Homo sapiens: one gene and its partner. The protein of the gene in region 2 interacts with the protein of the main gene of each other region in a pairwise test. Each region holds a gene or a part of one and is shown on either strand. Other genes may lie near its edges.

Region 1 (7,068 bases), on a different chromosome or scaffold from region 2:
ACAGATCAAAACAGGAATCAGAAAAGATTTCTTTCTTCAATTAAAAACAAAACGAAACACCTAAGCTTTCAAAGAAACCTGAAAAACCAAGTGTCCTTGGCCCAGCCAATCTGAACACAGCTGATCACTGCTTGACTCTGTCTTTGAATCTGGCAGCACTAACCAGACATTCTCACCAGCCTGTGCTGCAGGAAACGCTGAGGCAGGAGGAAGGGTTTCTGGCCAGCAGGAGAACCCACGTGATGATCATATGCTGCGCATTAAAAGCTGGGTTACAGCCTCTAGGAAGGAAAGACCCACTTAATTTTGGCAAAATGTCGTTTTCTGCCTCAACAGAAAAAAATGCATGAGACAGCGTTTGGATAACCCCAAGTAGATGATTCTGACAGACACCGAAAGGCAGAACAGAGACTCCTCAGAGTGACAGAGACACAGTCTCTCACGTCTTGGGTTTTTAAGCCTTAAATAAGAGACAAATCACTTAGTGACGAAATACAAATTGCTGAATAGCAAGCAATTTCAGGTATAAGCCCAGTAAGAACATTCCTGTTTTCTTAAATCTAGAATATTTAGGGAAAAATACAAAAACAAAAATTGACGAAGTTCTCATTTCTCTAAATTCTGAATGTCTTAACAAAACACATAAAATCACAGGTGAACACATAATTCTTTTGGTCATTAAAACTAGTTCTAGCTACTCAGAAGGCTAAGACAGATCACTTGAGGCCAGGAGTTTCAGACCAGCCTGGGCAACATAGTAGGACCTTATCTCTACCAAAAATCAAAAAGAAAAAAAATTAGCTGGGTGTGGTGGTGTGCACCTGTAGTCCTAGCTACTTAGGAGGCTGAGGCAGGAGGATTACTTGAGCCGTGGAGTTAGAGGCTACAGTGAGGTATAATCATGCCACTGTACTCCATCCTGGGTGACAGAGTAAGACCCTGTCTCTGAAAATTAAAAATAAAAAAAAAAGACTCTAGTCCTTTTTTTAATATTTACAAAAATTTTGTGTAGATACAGGTCCTCACTATATTGACTAGGCTGGTCTCAAACTCCTGGCCTCAAGCAATCCTCCCGTCTTGGTCTCCCAAGTGCTGGGATTACAGGCCAGCCCAAAGCTAGTTCTAATTAATAAGTTACACTTATACCTTACTGCATAGTTTGCCTATCTATATCTCCAGCCCTGTACTCTGGATCTGAACTTTCAACAAGATCTCTTTATCCACTTTGATGTCCCATGAACTCCTCAAAATCAGTGTTTCCAGAGAGAATTACAGTTGGGCATCCCCATGACAGATATGCACTCACAGGCACGCACACACACTCATACGCACCCTGCGCCTCTTCCTGTGTTCTCCCATGTATCCACCCTGCCGTTCCAGATGAATACCTGAACATCATTCTTGATTCATCCTTTACCACCTGACCCCTTCATACCCAATCAATCACCAATCCACCTCCTAAATACCTCTCAAGTACAGCTGCTTCTTTCCACTTCTACTGCCACCTCCCCTATGCTTAGGAGTGAAGAGTCTCAGCTTGGCTCCAGCTGATTTGCTCTGCCATGAATTAAATGGGTGCACCTGGACAAGTTTCTCACCATCAGAATCCTTAAGTCTCCCAACCAATACCATAGGCATAATAACAATAACAATACCCACCTCAGAGTTGTTAGGGGAATTTAAATAAAATAATCAACATAAAAGCCCCTGGAAGTTCCTGGATGCTATTAAGTATTCAATAAATCTCAACTCTTACAATCACCCTCCTTTTGCGTGCCCAGCACAACCCCACTAGGTTAGGTGGCTCTCCTCTCCTGGCCCCTCTAAGGCTCTCTGGTGATTGCTTTGTCTGCCTCCCAACCCAACTGTCAGCTCCCCAACGGCAAGGACTGAGTCTTATTCCCATATGATGGGAAATGACTAATAAAACAATGAGCAGTAATAGAGTGGTGAACCTATGTAATAAGAAATGACTATATATATTAGTAAGAGCTATATACTACTGAATGTGGTATAGGTTAAGTACCCTGCATCTGAAATGCTTGGGACCAGAAGGATTTAGGATTTTTTCAGATTTTGAAGTATTTGCTGTATCAGTCGAGCTTCCCAAATCCAAAACTCCAAAATGCTCCAATGAGCATTTCGTTTATGTGTCGTGTCAGCACTCAAAAAGTTACAGATTTTGGAGCATTTCGGATTTTGGATTTTCAAATTTGGGATGCCCAATCTATATTCCTTAAGAGATTATTAATGAGAAAAATATCAACACATAAGATTTAAGTCAGCAAGGAATCAACAATGAAAATGATCAGTTACCATAATATTGTGATGTGTTCAATGCTTTGTAACATAAAGCATTTTATTTTTAAGTAACTCATAAATCTTCTCTTAGAAAGCAACATACATGGGCACTTCTTGACATTAAAAAGATTCACTTTTGCTACTCAGCAATTTCTTTTGCATGCTTTTGCAAGCCAGAGATATTTGTTCCACAAACAAAGAAGCCACCCGATAGTTTCAGAACTGTGACTCAAGTCTTTTCAGAGGAAGCAGTTGAAAAAACATCTCTGCCCTCCCACACTGACATCTAAGACTCTGCCCATTTATGAAAAAGACAAAGAGTATGTGTCAAAATACTGGACCCACTTATTCACAAGTAGGAAGAGGAGACTCAAATGTTTCCCACTGGGTTGAATTTAAAAAAAAAAATTAGGAGCAGTTATGTGGCCCATCTCTAATGGTTCTAATTAAAGACAAATCACTCTTAAGCAATGAGAACAGACTGTCCTTAGGTTTTTGAGGTGAAAAGTAGTGAGAAAACAGTTCTGATTTTGTTTCAAAATCTTAAATGATGTTTTTCGGATTCCAATTTCTCAACCTCTGAGGGAAGTTCAGGATGAGGGGAGAGAATGCCCACTCTGCGGTATCCAGGTGAGGGGTGGCAGCATACCTGGGCTCCATAGACGCGCTGCATTGCCTGGAGCAGCTGGTTGGTATAGTCTGTGAGGGTGCCAGCATCTTCTTCAAACACGCTCAGTAAAGAGCGAGTCTGGAAGAAAAGAAGAAAAAAGGTCAATTTCATTTCTAAGTGGAAAAGTTACAGAGGAGGAGGAAGATCCACACACCCGCACATGCAGAAACCAGAATGCGAGGAAAGAAAGGTACCTGTTGGTTCCCTGGCTTCTTTTATTGATAGTACCAGTACCATTTGATTCCTGGAGCTCTGGTTTAGAGCTCGCTTTCTAATCCTTTAGACTACAGTGTCAGGGCAATTTCAGAATTGGAGCCAGAAAAGCCAGTTTTTAAAAGATTATGACTGAAGGGCTATTATCTGTTCTGACTTTAGCCCCTACCTAAGCACCAGTAAAGTCTATCCAATAAAAAAAGTGTTTAAAAGGGCAGCCTCTCCTCTCAAGTCCATAAGATAAACACAGGTCAGGCCTATCTGTGTACCTGGGGTGTGGTCATCTAGCACAGCTGTAGTGTGATCATCCCAGCAGGAACCAGCAGTCTGGTTTTTTGTAATCTTGGATGTCTTGCAGGAGTGTAGGAGTGTGTCATTCTTTCCTCTTATGGTACTACGATTTCCTTGTTTCTTTTTCTTTCTTTCTTTCTTTTTTTGAGATGGAGTTTCGCTCTTGTTGCCCAGGCTGGAGTGCAATGGTGCGATCTCGGCTCACTGCAACCTCTGCTTCCCGGGCTCAAGGGATTCTCTTGCCTCAGCCTCCTGAGTAGCTGGGATTACAGGCACCCACCACCACACCTGGCTAATTTTTTGTATTTTTAGTAGAGACAGGGTTTCACCATGTTGGCTAGGCTGGTCTCAAACTCTTGACCTCAGGTGATCCACCCACCATGGCCTCCCAAAATGCTAGGATTACAGGTGTGAGCCACCGCACCTGGCCTGCTTGTTTTTAATTATATTTTATTCAACCATTTTCAAACTCACGGCCAAGAAATTTCACAACCCCTGGGCCCACCAGCAGCAGCTCTGGACATAAAACTCAAATAGCAACTTAATAAGAATGCTAGTTTACCGTTTTTAGGAAGACAAACTCCTCAGTGCTCAGAGAGCAGCTGAGCAAAGTCATAAGCTGAAAGGCATTTCCTATCATTTTCATCCACGGTGCTCAGAACACAAAAAGCACTAGAGAAATATTTACATACTGGATGGTGTACGAACAAGAATTAAGGTGCACAGAGGCAGATCTACTCAAGGGATTTTCGTTAATGTGCCCAGCACAGTGGGAATTTAAAGTACTATGTTAGCAATAATTGGATCACAACTTCAAAATATAACCCATTAGGCATAGAATGAAGAATAATTTCAGGAATGCCTTTGAGGTGATATCAAAGCACTTTACCAAATACAACTCACTAAGGCTCATTATTTCCCTGCAAATAAATTGCAATTCCTCCTTTTCTTTTTCTAACTTATTTCAGGTAAAGGAACAGTAACTGACCCCAAAGCACCCTCAAAAAACTAGAATAAGAACCTATGCATTGGGATCATTACCTCCCACCACACATGCTCTACCCAGACTCTGCTCCAAAACTCTGATGCGCTTCACAGCAATGCATGCTTATCCCGCTTTGCCCAGTCTTCCGGGCTAAAAACACCAGGACTAATGTACTGTCTTCAGTACCAATGCTTATCCATAGAAGAGCCACTGTGCAATAATGAATAAGGAAATTGTAACATCATGTTTAAAAAAGCTCTCAGTGAAAGAAAAACAACACAGAATTTGTACAGTGTATAATTTGTGTTAGAAGAGCTCTCTGAACTTTCAAAAATTCATAATCACAGTATGAAATACATCAGGACCTGAACAAAGGTTTTCCCAAACAATATTTATCGATAATATGCATACACATTGTGGCTTTTTCCTATTTTAGTCTATTCCATTTATAAACAAAAATTGTGGTTGTGACCCACTGGATTTCATAATCTACTAATGGATGTCAACCAGTAGGTTAAACACACTGATTCAGGAGAATGAGAAGTGATATAACTGGATTGTGGCTAGTTTTTTCAAAAATACTACTATGTCCATTTAGCCAAATCCTGTTTATTGCATTTAATACTCTAAGGGATAAAAACAGACTGGAAGAAAAGAGGTAAAAAGGGAAAGAGAGGGTTTGCATGAATGTCCTCCACAAAGAGGGTAGAAAGAAAACTAAAATTACCACTTACTCTGTACCACCTATGTGCTGGACGCTGTGCTGGGCACTAAACATATGTGACTTCATTTAATTCTTCTAGCAACTCTCCAAGGTAGATTCCATGGTTCCATTAACTTCATTTTACTGATGATGAAACTGAGGCTCATCAAGGTTAAGAAATGTGTTCAACCTCCCACTGTAGGAATGTGGCAGGGCTGGGATGTAAATGGGTCGGCAGCACTGAGGTCACCAGCAGGGTGGCTCTCATCAGCGAGCATGATCTTTGGTCCACAGCGTACAGCCCTGACTGGAGGCAGGACAGGGGCAGACTGGAGCTGGATGCTACTACCATGTTCCCGCCCACAATACCTGCCAGAGAACTACATCACAAGTGTCCTTTTTCCTTATATCGTGGAAATGCAACTGTGATGCCCATTAGAACTGACAGGGAAACTCTGGTCTTCCCTTTTTAATTTAACTTGGCAGTGATCACCTCTGGAAAAAATATAACCAGCTACCTTGGACACTGGCTATCCTCATTTACTATACTGTGTCTGCTCAAACTTTGGTTTGGAACAACAGAGATATTCTGAGACATAAAGAAGGAATGAGACCAAGAATAAAGCAAAGGCACACCAGTAGCTCAAAATCCCACGGTCAGAAAGACACGGTCAGAAAGACACTGGTATATCTCACTTACAAAGATAACAACAGCAATCATTTATGGGGTTACTATGGCATGCCAGCATGGAGACACTTTACATATGTTACTTGTTCTTCCTAACAACTCAACTAAATAGCTATTTTTATTTTTATTTTACATACCTCCAAACACAACCTCAGAGAGATTGAGTAACTTGCCAAAAGTAACAGTAGCAGATTCAGGAGTGGAATTCCATCCATTTTCTACTGCCCGACACTTTTAAGGGTATGCTCGGCCAGAGAAACAAATCCAAGCACCCTATGCACACAGCCTCAGCTCCCTATCACTCCTTTACCTTAAAGAAACTGGGTATTACCTAATAAAACACTCCTAGACATTCTCAAGAATAGTGTGTGTAATTGTGTAGTGGCCCAATGTTAACACCACTGACTACTGAGAAAATTTTAAGGTTATAAACAAAGTTCTTATCTCCATAATTTGGTGGAGGAAGAGAATGTCCTAGTGAAAAGAACCAAGACTTTGGGAGGCCAAGACAGGAAGATTGGTTGAGCCCAGGAGTTCAAGACCACCCTGGGCAACACAGCAAGACTCTGTCTCTACAAAAATTAAAAAATTAGCCATGCGTGGTGATGCATGCCTGTAGTCCTAGCTACTCAGAAGGCTGAGGTGGGAGGATCGCTTGAGCCCAGGAGGCTGAGGCTGCAGTGAGCCGTGTTCATGCCACTGCACCCCAGTCTGGGCAACAAAGCGAGACCCTGTCTCAAAAAAAAAAAAAAAAAAAAAAAGAACCAAGTCTATTGAAAGGAAAAATAGGTTATAAACAAAAAGAGGAACAGCACAAAACATCTCCACAGTGAAGACATATAAAACCACCAGGTTATGTTTTGAGATTATCTTGTTTGAGGAAAGAAAGGCCTGATTTGGTTGGAGAGGGCTGCTCCCAGCCGGGCCACTCAACTGCATAACCTCAGAACTACATCTTTTATTTCTTTGTTCCGTTATGCCAATCGCAAAAGAAACAAACAAAACACAAACCGAGCAAGCAACAGTGCTGTTGTCTTCACCTTACCTCAAAAGTGTACTACTTACAGGACAAGAGAATAAGCCCCTGAAGAAGTACAAGCTGCAGGAGCTCAAAGCTGCATTTGTGTTCCTATCGCAGCAGGATTCACACTGTACTGGAACTGTTGCCTCATTATCTGTCTCTGGAACAAACTGTGAACCAGTCAAGGGTAGTCACT
Region 2 (10,230 bases):
CTTATTTTTTATAGCCCCCAAATGAGCACAACTGCCCACCATATCTTAGGCTGTGACTAAATGTTTCTGAATGTATAACAAAAAAATAGGAGTACCAAAAGGTATGTAATATACAAATCACAACAATAACTGTATGAGTTCTTAAAGGAAATACAAGCTGATAAACTTGGAGGTAGCAATTCACGGTTTCTCAATATTTGTCACCTGCTGTCTATAGCCAACAAGTGGCAGCAAACACCAAAACTTTAAAAGAAACATATGAGAAGACAAAGTACAAAAAAATTTTGTCTTTCCACTAGGTAATTTTTTCTGCCAATTTTGAAATAATCATCATATTCAATATCAGTGTTAAAATAACCTGCATCTGGCTGGGCACAGTGGCTCACTTTGGGAGGCTGAGGCAGGAGGATTGCTTGAGCCCAGGAGTTGGAGACCAGCCTGGACAATATAGTGAGACCTTGTCTCTACAAATTAGCAGCATGTGGTGGCACATGCCTGTGGTCTTAGCTACTCAAGAGGCGGAGATGCGAGGATCGTTTGAGCCTGGGATGTCAAGGCTGCAGTGAGCCAAGATCAGGCTACTGCACTCCAGCTTGGGCAACAGAGTGAGACCCTGTCTCTAAATAAATAACTGGAATTTGATTATGAAAACACCAGTGGTTCCATGGGAGCATAGTCTGAGAACTATTATAGTCAATGGAAAAATCACTGAATTTTCATGCCAGTAAGAGTAGGAATTGTGATAGCTGGGTTAGACACCCAGAATTGAAAAAAGTGAGCCACATGACATTGATTGTTAAAGTATTTTCTTAGAGCTGTAATTTCCTGATCTCTCAAATACAGGTTGTAGTATAATGATTTCTGTTATTCTAGTTCTTAACCACTCTAGGTTCAATCAGTGTTTCAGGAATATCACTATATTGTCAGATGTGGACTATCATTAATTTGTGCCACGCCATATAGAGGTGGTTCTCGAAACACAAAAGTACCTGTATACTTTAAGAAACCAAAGCTATAGGCAATATTTGTTGCTCAGCTTACTAAGCTATGTGCATGTCCATCAATGTGTACAGAGGATCTTGTTCTTAACTGAACTATCTTAAATACCCATAGTTTTGTCAGAAATTATTCTGTATGAAGGGGTGATGTAGCAACAATAATGCTGCAGAAAAATCACCTTGCATTGAGACTCAATACTACTACAATTAACACCCTTTAAGTTCAACTTGACCCTTCACATGAATTCATAATAGTAACAACCCTTTTTCCTGCCCCCACAGAATTTTTTCCATTTCTCAAGTTGGCTATTTTAGACCTCCTCCACTTTGCTCAAGGTTCCCACCCCTACCTCCTGTGTTATTTTCAGTGATGTATGACCTTTGTTACTAATGCAAAGAGAAAATGGAAACCACCAGGCATTAACTGCCTTAACTGCCAGCCTTCCATGGCCATGGAGCTAGAGATAAGGTGGATGCAGACATGAAAAGAGAGACGCACTTCCTCGGTCAATTCTTCTTGTCTCTTCAGTATCTCCCTCTGCTGGTTCTCACTAGCATTTAAACAGGCTCCATTTTTAAAAAGCAAAATAAAACTAAACCTCCTCTGAGATATAAACTTTTGTATATGTAGGGAATCTCTAAAAGACATATTAAGTTGCTAAGACAGAGACTGAAACTAGGTCATGGGGTAGATGTCAGTATCTGACCTTTTATAACATTCATTTTCTAAAACTACATGCATAATACCTCCTCAAAATTAAAAAAAAATTACTATCACAATGGTCTTTTCAAAAAAACTTGAAAAAAATTATAAACACCCTTATACCCATGTAGCCCTCTCGTTTTCTTGAAAGCTAGGATTCATGGAAGAATTGTCCATACTACTTGACTCTACTTTCTTACCTCCGGTTAATTTTTTTTTTTTTTTTGAGACAGAGTTTCACTCTTGTAGCCCAGGCTGGAGTGCAATGGCACGATCTCAGCTCACTGCAACCTCTGCCTCCTGGATTCAAGCTATTCTCCTGCCTCAGCCTCTCAAGTAGCTGGGATGACACGAATGTGCCACCACGCCCGGCTAATTTTGTATTTTTAGTAGAGACAGGGTTTCTCCATGTTGGTCAGGCTGATTCGAACTCCCGACCTCAGGTGATCCGCCTGCCTCAGCCTCCCAAAGTGCTGGGATTACAGGCGTGAGCCACTGCACCCGGCCTGGTTCATTCTTTAATTCATTCCTTTGGCTCTTCTCAGAGGTGCTCTAAGGGCATCAGTGACCCTCCATTACTAAATACAGTGGATTCTTTCCAGTTCTCTGACCTACTGTTTAATACTCTCCTGCTGACATCATCTTTTCTCTGGTTCCCATGATTTACTCTTCCCATTTTCTTTCTTTTTTTTTTTGAGACCGAGTCTCGCTCTGTCACCAGGTTGGAGTGCAGTAGTGCAAACTCGGCTCACTGCAACCTCCGCCTCCTGGGTTCAAGAGATTCTCGTGCCTCAGCTTCCCAAGCAGCTGGGATTATAGGCAAGCGCACCACCATGCCAAGCTAATTTTTATATTTTTAGTAGAGACGGGGTTTCACCATGTTGGCCAGGATGGTCTCAATCTCCTGACCTCATGATCTGCCCGCCTCGGCCTCCCAAAGTGCTGGGATTACAGGTGTGAGCCACTGCGCCCGGCCAACTCTTCCCATTTTCTGACTACCTCTCTTGCCAGTGTGTCTCAGACTCTGACAGTCCTTCCTATGAGTGTCCCCACCTACTCCTCAGGGCTCATCCTCAATCCTTGTTTTCTGCTCACATTTGCTTTGCTTGGGCTACTGCAATCGCCTCTTGCCACCCTCAACCCATTCAGGGCACAACAGCCAGAGTCATGTTTTCAACACATACATCTCAGCATGCTGCTCCCCTGCTTAAAACTACTAAATGGTTCTCTACGCCCTTAAGAGGAAGTCCAAAATCCTTTCCTCGGCCTATGAGGAGCCGCACACTCTGGGGCCTGCCCACCCCGCCAGCCTCACATGCTCCCTCTTACTTGCTCTGTTCCACTCACACCCTCTATTCCTTGAAGGCCCTCTTTCTACTCCTTGAAGTCAGGCTGTCTTCTGCCTCGAAATCCCTCCCACATATCCCTTTCTTCCTTTAGTACTAAGTTGAAACATCAGTTCCTCAGGGATACCTGCCCAGTCTCTCCAGGATAAGTGAGATCTTTCTGTCACATCAACACTTACGTCAACTACAATAAGTACTTTGTCCAACTGTATTTAAGGTATTTCTACCCTCACTGAACGATAAACTCTGTAGTATCAGGGACCGTACCCTCACATCAGTCATTGCTCAGATTCCCAATTCCTAGTGCAGGACATGGTAGATGGCCAGTAAATATTGGCTGAGTTCATGAACAGGAAACTGCATCCACTCCCAAGGCTTCCCTCTCTATCTTTTTGCCAATTACTTTAGGATCTATGTTTCTAGTTAGATCTCACTACTGATTTGAGCCCCACTTCCAGTTGGTTTAAGTTCCACTTAAAATGTCTTCAAGAAAGTACATTTTGAAAGTACTCAAGAAAGTTGAGTATGTTTTAAGTAGAACTTAAACCCACTGGAAATGGGTCCCCAAACCCAATCTAGTTCCTACTCCTGTATTCCTGGTGAACAGTAATACTGTCTACACCACTGCCCAAGTCAGAAACCTGTATTTTCCTAGACCTGGCACCTTCACTACCAGACCCCCACCCAACCCTGTGACCACAAGCCACAGACATACATTTTACATCCTTATTTTTTTTTAAAAAACAAAAGAACCGTGCACCTACTTTTCCTTGACATCGTTAATACTTTAGTCCAAGCACCATTGTTTCTGGTCTGGTTACTATGACAGCCATTCAGAACATGCAGCCATGCACGTGTTATTCCTTTCCCTATCAATCCCCTTTCTTTTTTGCAGAGAGAAAATTCTCTCAATTACAAACCTGATGTGTCACTCTCTTTAGAACCTGCCAACTAACTCCCCATTGCCTTAGGATGGCTGAAAAATCCTTCACTCACCTCTTTCTTTCCCACATCCATCTCCGACCACCTCATTCTCCAGACAGAAGCCCTAGTCAATTACAATGCTCGCCTTTTCAGGCTCCACTTGGACATCACTTCTGGGAAGCTTTCTGTGACCTATCCAAGGTGCACCTCCCACAGATCTTCTAACGATGTTTGCCACAGCACTTTTTATACATCTACACTGCAACGGGTTATTTCTTTGTCAAACTTTCTCACTAGGCTGTGAGTTCTTTATAGTGAGGGAGTTTCTTATTAATCTTTCTATTCCCAGTGCCTAACACAGTGTCTGGCACACAGAAGAAACTCAAATATTTGTTGAGTAAGTATACGAGAAAAAGAAACAGGAGATACGAGTCAACAGAATGCTGCTATCATCTAAGCATGAAGCCAGGAAGGCCTAGTCTAATAGTGAATGTAGGCCCTAGAAACATGACCGAAGCAAAAGACAATTCAATTCAATGACCATGGACCAAACACCCGTTCTGTACCGGGACTAAAATGAGACATAGTCCTGGCCCTCAAATGGTGGATGATTTGGCAGGGAAGATCTGATATAAACAAGACCATAAAGTGCGACAAGTTCTAGAGTAATGGCAAGAATGGTGCTTTGTAAATCCTGAACATAAATCAACTAATTTTGCTGGAGGTGAGGAAGGGCAGGTGGTTCTACAATAGGTGGTGACCTATGCACTGAACTGTGCAGGCTGTGTAGGATTTTGCGGTCCAGGGAAGAGAAATGGTAGTATTCTGAAGAGGGAAATGGATGAGGAAAGGGGACACAAAAGTGCATGATATGTTCAAGGCATTAGAATATAAGCTGGGTCTGTTCTTCAGCTATGTTTCCAATGCTTAGAACAGTGCCTAGCTCATAACAGGTGCTCAGTACATCTTAGCTAAATGAAATGATCTATAAATATTTCAATTTCAGAAAATAGGATATATGACAAGAGATGAGGCTGGAAAGGTGGCGGGTGGCCAGATGATAAAGAACCTTGGTCCTATGCTAACATGTCTCAGATGAGACTGTTAAATAGGGAACCATGAAAAGGTCTAAAGCAAGGCTTGAATGCAATCAGAGCTAGGTTTAAGAAACAACTATAATGGCACGGTAGACTATGGTATTGAGACAGTATCTTTCATGAGCTAAGTGAAGGTGGTCACACAAGAAAAGGACAAGGTCATAAGATCCTTCACCTACTCTGAATTTGTAAAAGAAAGAGAAAGAGAAGAAAAAAGGCAGAGGTATGCTAAAGTAATGCTGGCTTAGAGATTCAATATCTGTGCCAGACAGAAGAAATGGGGGATGTATGTGGGGTACTGAGGACATAAGAGAGCAAAGGAAGGTCACTTATTCCGAAGCAAGAAAAGGGATGAACTGATGAGAAAGACTAAGAAGAAACTAAACAGCAAAAATGATCTGAAACTGAACTACAACACTCAGGATTCCACACAAGAATCTTGGTAGCTCCCTTAATGTAAGCACAGACCCGTAAGTAACTATTACTAATTCTCTCTGTGAAAGCACAGCAGGAATGAACAGGAAAGGACAGAGAGATAGAGATAACATAATATGATAACCCATTAGATTTAGAGAGTAAAAAGAAACGAAGAATTAAAGATATATGCAATCATGAGGTTAGGTAAGTGGGAGAATTATGTTTCTGTTAACCAAGATAGGGAACACTAGTGCAAAATCCAGGTATGAAGGAGGAAAATAGGTGCAGTTTTGAATGTGAACTTGGATACCTGTAGGGTATCCAGTTCGCAATGAAGCCCAGAAAGGGCTCAAGGCCTCAGAAAGATTGAATGAGCCAAACACATACAAGTAGAAACCACTGGGAAAGAGGCTGCCTACAGAGCAACTACAAGGTGAGAAGGCCAAGAACAGGGCCTTGAAGACTATCAACATTTCAGAGGAGAGATAAGAGATAGTAAAGGAGGTTCATAAAGAATAGTAAGAAAAACAGGTGGAAAAGAAGTAGGAATAGAGGTAAGAATAATCACAGTAAGCACTCACATAGTATAATTACCACGCTGGCCTTTGTTCCACGCATTCTATCTATGTTAACTCATTTAATGCTAGTAACACCCTGTAAGAATAGTACAATAATGATCCTTGTTTCAAAGATGAAGAAACTGAAAGACAGAAAGGCTAAGTAACTTGCTGAAGATCACACAACTTATAAATAAGGGGCAAATGTTAAACCTAGACAATTTCTCCATAGACGAGAGTTTCAAAGAGGAAAAGGTAGCCAACAGTGTTAAATGGGGAAAAGTTGAATAAGATGCAAGGTCTTCAAATCTGACGACTAAAAGGTCACTGAGGGGCACAAGTCAGAATAAGGTGGGTTAAAAAGCTAATGGGAAGTGGAAAGACAACTCACAGAATGGGAGAAAATTTTTGCAAATCACATACTAATAAGGGATTTGTATCCAGACTATATGAAGTATGATTCCAAGAATAAACAGACAATCCAATTTTTAAAATGCGCAAAGGATCTGAACAGACATTTCTCCAAAGATATACAAATGGCCAATAGGCACAGGAGATGCTCAGTATCATTAGTCAGAAAAATACAAATCAAAACCACAATGAGATGCCACTTCAAACCTACTAGGAAAACTATCATCAAAAAGTCAGATAACATCATGTTTTGGCCAGGATGTGAAGAACTGAAACTCATACACTGCTGGTGGAAATGTAAAATGCAGTGCTTTGGAAAAGAGTCTGGCAGTTCCTCAAACAGTTAAACACAGAGTCACCATATGACCCAGCAATTCCACTCCTCGTTATATACCCAAGAACCATGAAAACTTATGTCCACACAGAACCCTGTAGGCGAATGTTCATAACAGCCTTATTTATAATAGTCCGAAAATGGAAACAACTCAAATGGCCACGAAGTGATGAATAAGTTAAATGTGATATATCCATACAATGAAATATTATTTGGCAATAAGAAGGAATGAAGTATTGATATATTTCACAACATGAATGAACCCTGAAAACACGCTGAGTGAAAGGGGCCAATCACAAAGGACCACATATGGTATGATTCCTTTTATATGAAATGTCCAACCAGGCAAATGGACAGACAGATGTAGTGGCTGCCCTACGGCTGGAGGTAGAAGGGTAACTGAGGAAGTCTGGGGGTAACAGGTGGTAGCTAAGGGGTTTACTGTTTCTTTTTGGGATAATGAAAAGTGTTCTAAAACTGACTCCTAAAGTATACTAGAAAATCTGTGGGATTTTTTTTTTTTTTTTTTTTTTTTTTTTGAGACTGAGTCTCGCTCTGTTGCCCAGGCTGGAGTGCAGAGGGGTGATCTCAACTCACTGCAACCTCCACCTCTGGAGTTCAAGCAATTCTCCTGCCTCAGCCTCCTGAGTAGCTGGGATTACAGGGGCCCGCCACCATGCCCGGCTAATTTTTGTATTTTTAGTAGAGACGGGGTTTCACTATGTTGGCCAGGCTGGTCTCAAACTCCTGACCTCGAGTGATCTGCCCGCCTTGGCCCCCCAAAGTGCTAGGATTACAGGCGTGAGCCACCGTGCCCGGTTTACAAAATCTGAATTGTACACTTTAAATAGGTGAGCTGTATGATAGCATGTGAATTATATCTCAACAAAGCTGTTAAAAAAATTAATGGGACATGCAGTAGTAGAAAAAGACAGAAAACACTTGCATGAGGGGAGAGGCAAGGCCAAAGAAAATCTCTGAAGGTTAGGGAAGATCTGAATGTGTTTACTGACTGAGATATATCAGTAAAAAAAGAGAGCTTGATGTAAACAAGACATCAGAGAAGAAAAAAAGTCTGGCGGGGTGCAGTGGCTCACGCCTGTAATCCCAGCACTTTGGGAGGCCAAGGCGGGCAGATCATGAGGTCAGGAGTTTGAGACCAGCCTGGCCAACATGGTGAAACCCCATCTCTACTAAAAAATACAAAAATTAGCTGGGCATGGTGGCGGGCACCTGTGGTCCCAGCTACTCAGGAGGCGGAGACAGGAGAATCGCTGGAACCCAGGAGGTGGAGGTTGCAGTGAGCTGAGATCGCACGACTGCACTCCAGCCTGGGCGACAAGAGCGAGACTCTGGGCCTTTAAAAAAAAAAAAAAAAACTCCTATAGGGGGTAGATAGGAAGAAAAAAGAAAAATGGTGACACCTCTGGAAGTAAGAATAAGTGTGAACAGCTGGTGGTGAAGGTAAGTTGAGAGTTTACAAATGAAAGATCCTATTTTTCATTGAGGTAGGAGGTCTTCAGCAGAAAATGAGAAATGGATAGAGTAAGAAACCCAGAAAAGTAATCCAAGTTGGAAAACCTGCTGACAAGAATGGGAAAAGCAAGCAAGATAAAAAGCTTGTCAGGTAGAACTGAGCAGTGTGAGAACAGAAATAAGTTATAATGGGGCTGATATGCATGATTGTATAATATTCTCAGCTGGACTGGTCAGTCCATAGCTTGTAAACTGAGATGGCAGATGACTGGGGCTGTTTCAGGGGCCGAAGGATGCTGAGAGTGCAGGTGAGATGCATGGGCATAAGATCCCACTGAGCAGGGAAGGCAGTGATACTAAAGAACTTGAAAGAATGGGATTTAGTGACTGATTCAATATAGAAGATGAAGGAGGAAAATAAAGACTTAAACAAGATTCCCGATTCACTTATCTGATAGATTTGGTAGATTAATGACCAAAACAGTTCTTGGAAAGTGAGGTAGGCTATAGACAGATGAATTACTCAAAAATATACAGTTTAGATCAAAAAATCTTTTGAGAACAACTCTGCCGTTTTTTAAGAGCAATAAAGGAAGGCTTAGAGAAGTGAAACGAGTTTGCTTAAGTCCTAAGGTACTAAACAAAAGCTGGAAATGACTTTGCAATCCAGGCCATTCTATTATAACCTAGAACCTGACTAAATCTGGAGTGTGACAAGATGGCAGGAAATGCAAATGGTGATGTTCTTGAGAGTCAGTAACACTAAAATTGGTTTGAAACGGTAGGTTCATTTCAGGTGATAGTGGGGAAATACGATCCACGAACAAAACGAAAGACAATTGGAGATCAAACATTTGCTCTGGTAACCCACACGGAGATAATCAAGAGTTGGATGTAGAGGGATATGAGCACCTGAAAATATTCTAATGCAAGAACACTTTATGCTTCAAAATCCTCTCAATGCTATTTGGCAACACAGATGATAGGACATATAAATTTATCATGCCTTAGAATTTTAAACATTAAGAAGAGCTTTTCTTTTAATGTTCTTTTTATGTTACAGAAATACGAAATACTGAAGTCTGATTAGGTCTCTTGTAAGGGGCTAGATATTTGCCTTACCTTTACTACCTTGTAGTCACACAAGTATTCCACCTCATAATTGTTTAGATTCCTTTTGGTGATTCCAATCGATTTACATGTGAGCTTTTCTTTTCTACATAATTCCTGAAGAGTATCAAGTGAAACTAGGCAAGGCACACACCAAGCTACAATAAGAAAATAGAATTCTTTACTAATGAAATAGCTATTCAATTAAAACAAAAAAGAGAAACTTAAAACCTCTATTCCCCATCTTTCAACTGGCAATTTTAGACTAAAAATTCCTATGACAAGAAACCAGTTACATGTCTTCAAGAAAAAGTTAAACATTAAGGAACTATTTTGTTAAATTGGTGTTCTTGGATTTTCTCATGGATTTCTATTCCACTACGTTTAACTGACATCAGTTAATTTCCATTAAGTCACTTGAAAATGTTTCATGTCTGTAAGCTTTTTTAAGATTATATACAGATGCAGGTCAACAGAGATAATGTTTTTCACTTTCATTGTATTCTACATAGACTACAATCACTATTTTAATAAAATGTAAATCTCTAGGACACTTATTCTTAAAAACATATCTAAAATATACTTTAAAACAATCTTATAATTTGTTAACACGTAACTTTCATTTTTTTTAACTGGACAAAACGAACTGAAATCTAATTAAAATATATTTCTACGGTTACAAACTCATTATATGTTAGTTTTCTCTTTGATATGTTGCATGAAGCTTTAATTCCACTTATTATTCTACCCATACTGCAATATATTATCACCAAGGTGAATAAACTCCAGTTATTAAAAAAATGGAGTATATCGATATTTTGTAATACTTATGGACTGTACTGTTTTTAAAGCCAAAC

The links.
Region 1: the proteins of SUV39H2 (region 2) and APPL2 interact in binary tests that used the Homo sapiens proteins (3 or more experiments, as listed by UniProt).

What each region holds. Positions count from the first base shown.
Region 1 is NC_000012.12:105,226,175-105,233,242, forward strand, and holds part of APPL2 (DCC-interacting protein 13-beta), read right to left. Parts: exon of another isoform or gene 3,469-7,068; coding exon of another isoform or gene 3,454-3,468; intron 3,050-3,453; coding exon 2,951-3,049; intron 1-2,950. UniProt on the Homo sapiens protein: Multifunctional adapter protein that binds to various membrane receptors, nuclear factors and signaling proteins to regulate many processes, such as cell proliferation, immune response, endosomal trafficking and cell metabolism.
Region 2 is NC_000010.11:14,880,801-14,891,030, reverse strand, and holds part of SUV39H2 (histone-lysine N-methyltransferase SUV39H2), read right to left. Parts: intron 9,532-10,230; coding exon 9,386-9,531; intron 1-9,385. UniProt on the Homo sapiens protein: Histone methyltransferase that specifically trimethylates 'Lys-9' of histone H3 using monomethylated H3 'Lys-9' as substrate.